Homo sapiens: one gene and its partner. The protein of the gene in region 2 purifies or fractionates together with the protein of the main gene of each other region. This does not show direct contact. Each region holds a gene or a part of one and is shown on either strand. Other genes may lie near its edges.

Region 1 (3,500 bases), on a different chromosome or scaffold from region 2:
CAGCACTTCTAGAAGCCGCTGCTAGGTGACAGGAACCCAAAACACCCACATGCAGGCAGCACACGCAACCTTTTTGCCCCCCAACCCCGGGTTTTACCAGTTTCACAAGTATAGCCCCCAAGGGTTATGGGCAGCTACTGTTCTGTTAGGTCCTCACCTGCTGTTCAAAAACCTCTCCTGTGGGCACCAAAAACACCTGTTCTTTTGGGGGCTGTCTCTTCTCACTTTTAAGTACTTCAGCTGATGGTTTGTCCTGAGCAGCAGCTGGAGAAAACAAGTAAAGGTTCTAAGTGACAAACTGCTGCCAACTCCCAAACAGTTCCTAGGTGTCACCTATTCACTTTTAGGAGAAAAGGCAGAGAAACCAACAGGCTGACAAGCCTGACTCACCGCCTATGTGGAACACACCATCATCACTCCTCTTCAGCACAACATGTTCCATGGCCAGAGTGATGGGGATGGGGCCTGGAGATGTTGGATAGATGGGGGGGATATCATCCTGCAGGAAAGAGAGAAACCACATGATGCCCCCCACCAGCTCAGAGCAATTTAACACAACCCATGCTCCCATCATTCAGCTTGAAGCAGCTTTATGCCAGTTTGTCCATACATTCTTGGAAGGTATAAGAGGCATGGCAGATTCTCCCATCTAGAGATGGTGAAACTGAGAATCAGATAACCTGATGGCTTGCACATGGTAATGCTGCATGCCAAAGACAGGGTTAGGGTTACAGACAAGGTCTCCTCACCTGAACCCTGGCTTTTCTGACAGCAACACACATTTATATACCACTATAACACTGACAGAGAATGCAAATATGTATTAATATTTCCTCACTTGATCCTCACCATATTTTACAGTGAAAAGGGAAGAGGTTAACAGGTGTCACTGCTTCCTTGCTTGACAAAGTCCAGGGCAAAAACCAATGTGCCCTTACATTGGCAAAAACCAAAGGTTCCTCACACCTTTAGGGTGATGCTGGAGTTCAGAAGCTCAATCTGCATGGGGACTACCACCGGGATCTCCTCATCCTCCAAGAAGGGCCCCAGGCCACTGAGCACTGAAGTGAGCAGCTCGAGGTCACAGCCATGAAGCAATAAATGTAGGAAGCCATTTTGTGAGGCCAGGGGGGAATGAACAGCTGCTCCAGGCCCCACCTCAAAGCGAAGGCCCACAGCTGGCCTGATGTGGCCAGTCTTCAAAGTTGAGGATTCCTGAAAGCATGTACCTTTGTGAAGAAAGACAAGGAAGACAACTAATTAACGGCCAGGGAGTCTTCTAGGCACCTTATATACCAATATTCATAATAACCCTATGTCAAAGGAATATCATCATTCTCATCTGACTGAACGAAGTCACAGAGAATAACTTGCCCAAAATTACATAATTAGTAAGTAGCAAGGAGAGGATCTGAACCCAGGCAGTCTGATTGCCAAGTCCATGGGCTTAGATACTTTGCTATAATGCCTTGCAAGGTGGAAGAGAGATTAAGGATTGGCCTTGTTATGAATGTGAGACAGTGGGCTAATGGCCAAGGAAAAGCTCTTAAAACACAGGACTCCCAAACTCTACTAAATTTGAATGTCTCCTCCTTTCTCTAAGTCTTGGTTTTCTCATCTGTCACTCATAAAGCAAAGCAGGATCTATGCTAATCTCTCCAAAACTCCAAACAGAACACTCTCAGGTGTAGCCAAGGATCCTGTGGAACAACTTACACATTTATGGAACTGCAAATTGGTACAAACATTTTGCATAACAATTTGGTATTATCTAGTAAAGGTGAAGTTGTGCCTACCCTAATGATCTAGAAATTATATTGTCAGAAATACAACCCCAGGGAAACTCTCAAACATATATTCCAAGAGACATGTACAAGGATGTTCACAGCAACCCTATTTGAAACTGGAAAAACAAACAAACAAACAAAAACTAGAAATAACCCAAATGGCTGTCCAGAATAGAATAAAGAAGTAAATAGTATAATGGGTACAGGGATATTTTGGGGGTCATGGAAATGTTCTAAAATTGGGTTGTGGTGATGGTTACACAATTATAAAATTGTACACTTAAAATGAGTGAATTTTATGTTATGCAAATTATACTTCAATAAAGCTGTTTTCAAAAAGCAAAAAGTGCCGTGCACAGTGGCTCATGCCTGTAATCCTAAGACTTTGGGAGGCTGAGGCGGGTGGATCACTTGAGTTCAGGAGTTCAAGACCATCCTGAGCAACATGGTGAAACCCTGTCTAAAAATACAAAAAAATTAGTCAGGCGTGGTGGCAGGCACCTGTAGTCCTGGCTACTGAGGAGGCTGAGGCATGAGAATCACTTGAACCCGGGAGGCGGAGGTTGCAGTGGGCTGAGATTGCAACCACTGCACTCCGGCCTGGGCAACCCAGCAAGACTCTGCCTCAAAAAAAAAAAAAAAAAAAAAAAAAAAAGTGGTGTATGTATACAATAACATTATATAGTAATGAAAAATGAACAAATTATAGCTAATTCAACAACCTAGATGAATTTAAAGAATATCATGTTACTTGAAAGAAGCAAATCACAAAAATAGTACAATCTATTATTCCATTTAGAAAAATGTGAAAAAAGCTAAAAATACATTAATATAAACACGTGTACAAATTATAAAGTAAAGCAAGATAACAATGAATACAAATTCAGGATAGTGATTACCTATGACAGGTGAGGGACAGAAGGAGGTTCAGGAGAGGGACTCCCAGAGACTTAAAAGGTAATGGTACTGTTGTATTAATTAAACTAGGTGGTGGGGCCAGGCATGGTGGCTCAGGCCTGTAATTCCAGCACTTTGGGAGGCTGACATGGACAGATCGCTTGAGGCCAGGAGTTTGAGACCAGCCTGGTCAACATGGTGAAACCCCATCTCTACTAAAAATACAAAAATAAGCTGGGCGTGGTGGTGTGTGCCTGTATTCCCAGCTACTCAGGAGGATGAGCCAGGAGAATTGCTTGAAGGAGGTGAAGGTTGCAGCACGTCGAATTCGTGCCACTGCACTCCAGCCTGGGCAACAGAGCAAGACTGTGTCTCAAAAAAAAATTAAAAAACAATAAAACAAACTAGGTGGTGAGTAAATGGGTTCATTGTATTGTTATTATTTTATGCCTTACATATATTTTATAAGTGTTCTTCAGTATCTACTCAATATTTTAATGTTTTTTAAGAGACAGGGTCTTGCTCTATTGCCCAGGCTGGAGTGCAGTGGTGCAATTATAGCTCACTGTAGTCTCAAACTCCTAGACTCACATGATCCACTCACCTCAGCCTCCCAAGCAGCTAGAACTATAGGCACGCACCGCCACACCGAGCTAATTTTTTTTTTTTTTTTTTTAAACAGAGTCTTGCTCTGTCACCCAGGCTGTAGTACAAGGGCGCGATCTCGGCTCACTGCAACCTCCGCCTCCCCGGTTCAAGCAATTCTCCTGCCTCAGCCTCCCAAGTAGCTGGGATTACAGGTGCCTGCCACCACAC
Region 2 (4,028 bases):
GTGGACTGATTGATTGATTCATTGATTGATTTTTGATACAGAGTCTTGCTTTGGCTGGAGTACAGTAGTTCAATCCTGGCTCACTGTAACCTCCGCCTCCCAGGTTCAAGTGATTCTTGTGCCTCAGCCACCCAAGTAGCTGGAACTACAGGCATGTACCACCATGCATAGCTAATTTTTTTGTATTTTTAATAGAGATAGGGTTTCACCATGTTGGCCAGGCTGGTCTCGAACTCCTGGCCTCAAATGATCTTTATACATACATATGTATAAAGAGAGAAAGGAGTAAAGAACAACTCCTGACTTTCTGGCCAAGTACTTTTGGTGCCCTTTATGCCTCGTAAGTGTTTGTGGCATAGAATTGAGTCTTTAAATTACTGCTAACAGGCAAGGCCAGGGCTCATGCCTGTAAGCCCTTTGGGAGGCCAAGGTGGGCGGGTCACTTGAGCCCTAAAATGAGTACTCGCCCCTAAGTTGTGCTAAGAAAGCTTAAAAGCATTCAGGGCAGGAGCCAGCAGCCAGAACAACTCAGGAACAAACTCCAGTCCCTCCACTTCCTCAACATGGCTCTGAGCAGGTCGCTCCTCTGCTCAGAAACCTTTAATGACTCCCCTCAGCCTTTGGACAAAAGCCAAATGCACAATCTGCTCTCAGTCTCCCTCTCCAGCCTCTTCTCCTTATACACTCTTACTGGAAACAGCAAGTAACTTGATGATTCAGGCACATCAAATTATCCACTGTTTCCTAAACATGCCATGCATTTTTGTGGAGCCATGGTTCATATTTTTTATTCTGCCTGGACTGCCCCACTCACCCTTCTCCATCATTCTCCTCCCTCAAAGGTTCATCTCAGATACCACCTTCTTCCTGAAGCATTCTCTGGCTTCCCGAACCTCAACTGGGGAACCTCATCTCCTCCCTCTTCGGTGCTTCCCGGCACCTTGTTATACCTCTAGCATGCATTCATTTATTCTTCACAAAAGGTAGCGACTTTTGTGTGCCAAGCACTATTCAAAGAAGTTGATGGGGATTAGATAACAAAATTAATTTTAAAATATTTATCACATGTCCAGAATGTATCATGCACTGTGCTAGGTACTGAGGAGATATTGGCTGTGGTTTGTTCTTCCTGTTTTGAGTTCAAACAATACCATACTATAGGGCTAGGCATTTCCTAAGATTAGTCTTTTGGGTACAATTATAATTTACTTTTATTAGTTCTAAAAATACCTCTTTCAAGGACCAGAGTAGGACATACTTGAAAGTAGAAAAGACTGGCTAAAAGGCTACAATAATAATCCAGAACAGGAAACTTGTATAGTGGGCAGAGTGCTGAGCCCAAGAACAGAAAACCTAGCTTCTGTTATTTGCTTTAATTTCTTTTTTTCTTCTGAGACGGAGATTCACTCTTTTGCCCAGGCTGGAGTGAAGTGGCACAGTCTTGGCTCACTACAACCTCTGCCCCCGGGGTTCAAGCAATTCTCCTGCCTCAGCAGCTGGGATTACAGGCATGCACCACCAGGCTCAGCTAATTTTTGTATTTTTAGTAGAGATGGGGTTTCACCATGTTGGCCAGGCTAGTCTCAAACTCCTGACCTCAGGTGATCCACCTGCCTCGGCCTCCCAAAGTGCTGGGATTACAGGTGTGAGCCACCATGCCTGGCCTGCTTTAATGTTTATGAGCTATGTGTGGGTCCTTAGACAAGATGATAGGCAATTCACATCATCTTTGAGTCTCCTTTTACTCACCTATAAAATGAGGACAATGTCTTCCTTATCTACCTCATGGTATTGTTCCCAGGACCAAATAGGGCCACATACATGGCATATGGGAAGTGCAAAGCACCTTACAAATATAAACAGCTATTAAAGTAATATGAAACCCCACAGTAAAAATAAGAGAAAATGAATTAAAAATACAGTAGACTAGATCCAGCTTATGTAAAAGGGAAAACTTCCTAATAGTGAGTTTTTTTTTTCCAGACAAGAATGAAGATATACTGGAGGCCATGATCACAGTGAAAGAATATTTTGATTTGGGAATACGTTGGTGCTTCTTAGTAGGTCACTCTCTTACCCCTCCAATCATTCGGGGTCAATCTTCCTTGACTACAGTTTCAAACCAAAGACTGTTCTCCATCTCCTCAGCACAAACCACTCAAAACCAGTCTCAAGGGCAGGAATCCATAAGTCCTGGGTCTAGGAGTCACACTCTGTTACTTATTCATGTGGCCTGTGATAATTGACTTGTCTCTTTCATCCTGTTCTGATCTTCCTCAGAATCAAGTTGGAAACTAGGAAGGCCAGAAAAGTATTTGAGGAGCATTCTACTCAGCAAATAAGAGAAGTGGTGCTTTTAATAAATCAAATGAAGGAAGCCAGTTAGAGAATCAGTGGGACCTCTTGATGTGTAAGATAAAAAAGAAAGACTAAAGAAAGCATAGGATCCTGTTTGTTGAGCTTCAAGGGGTCGGGGGTTGTGGGGTGTGGAGAAAAATAAAGCAAAGGAGAAGATAGACTGAATAAAAAAATTTTTTGGCTTGGTAATGAAAGATCATAGATACGAAATGAAAAATCAATGATGATGAAAAATGCTTTCAATTTAGAAATCAGGAGAACTAGGAAAAGTTCTACAGTAGTTCCGAATCATCTACTATCACGTTCTGTGCCCTTGGGCAACTCAATTAAAGAAGTATCTAGTAAGTGCTGTAGTAGGTACTGGGTGATCTCTAAGGTCACGGTTATCTCTCAATTTCTTTCTATTGATGCCACTACCATTAGAAGACTACCTAAAGAGTTCTGAAGGAACTCAAGGGTGAGCTTGTGGAACCACTGCCAAAAGGAATAGGCTTGATTTCTACCGAAGAAAGTACAAGTTGGCAATGAGTCCCATCTCTAAGAAGGGTTTTAGAAGGGGGCTTGGAGCCCCATGCCCATGAGTGCCTATTTCAGATCCATGTAACTTTTTGAGATAAAGGATAAAGAGTAGAATCATTGATTGCTCATTGAATACTTAATGATGAGCATTGAGAATCAGGGATTTTGTTCAATGTAAAAAAATAAAACATTTTGGTCAAGAAAGCCTTGCCTAAGAACCAACCTTCCTCTCCCCAAAAATAATGTTTAACTATTAAAAAATAAATAGGGCTGGGCACGGTGGCTCACACCTATAATCCCAGCACTTTGGGAGGCTGAGGAAGGTGGATCACTTGAGGTCACGAGTTTGAGACCAGCCTGGCCAATACGGCGAAAACCCTTCTCTACTAAAAATACAAAAATTAACCGGGCGTGGTGGTGCATGCCTGTAATCCCAGTTACTCAGGAGGCTGAGGCAGGAGAATCGCTTGAACCTGGGAGGCGGAGGTTGCAGTGAGCCGAGATCACCCCACTGCACTCCAGCCTGGGCAACAGAGTGAGACTCTGTCTCAAAAATAAATAAATAAAATAAATAAAAATAAGTAAATAAATAAATGACAAACTGGCTGGGGCTGCCTTAAAAATGTTTCCTGGAGAAGAGAGAAGAAAATGACAACTAGAGAAATCAGGGAAAGTTTATTGGAGAAGCAGGGCTTGAGCTGAAACTTTAAGGAAAGGTTTCAAATGAACGGGTAGGGGTGCAGAAGTAACTATGTGACAATGTCCAGAGAAATATGGGCAGCCTGTCTAAGGGTAAAGGAGAGATGAGCTTGTCGAGTAAGGATGCGTTATCAATAAGCAGTGGGAAATATGGCCTGCTAATGGAGGGGTAGGGTGGAGACAGACTCCAGAGGGCTTAAAAGACAGAAAGAGGAGTAAGCAATATTATCTGCCGGCTTAAAAGCAACAATATTTCTATAAGGTGTCAATCAAGTGATCCCCTAGTGTTCAGTGAAAGGATAATTAGGCACAAATTATTGAGAGAAGCAGTGGATATAATTTGTCTATCTTTCAGGAAGTTTTGGACAATGTATTAGACATTTAAAATGGAGTCATTGTCAAATTAAGGATGATGTTTTTGTCACTTAGAAAACAATAGATAGATATAAATG

What was found.
Region 1: the proteins of MMP24 (region 2) and BLTP3A purify together in Homo sapiens (affinity purification with mass spectrometry; one large-scale study listed by BioGRID and IntAct). This does not show direct contact.

What each region holds. Positions count from the first base shown.
Region 1 is NC_000006.12:34,868,583-34,872,082, reverse strand, and holds part of BLTP3A (bridge-like lipid transfer protein family member 3A), read right to left. Parts: intron 1,230-3,500; coding exon 967-1,229; intron 500-966; coding exon 391-499; intron 265-390; coding exon 158-264; intron 1-157. UniProt on the Homo sapiens protein: Tube-forming lipid transport protein which probably mediates the transfer of lipids between membranes at organelle contact sites. May be involved in the retrograde traffic of vesicle clusters in the endocytic pathway to the Golgi complex.
Region 2 is NC_000020.11:35,229,407-35,233,434, reverse strand, and holds part of MMP24 (matrix metalloproteinase-24 preproprotein), read right to left. Parts: intron 1-4,028. UniProt on the Homo sapiens protein: Metalloprotease that mediates cleavage of N-cadherin (CDH2) and acts as a regulator of neuro-immune interactions and neural stem cell quiescence.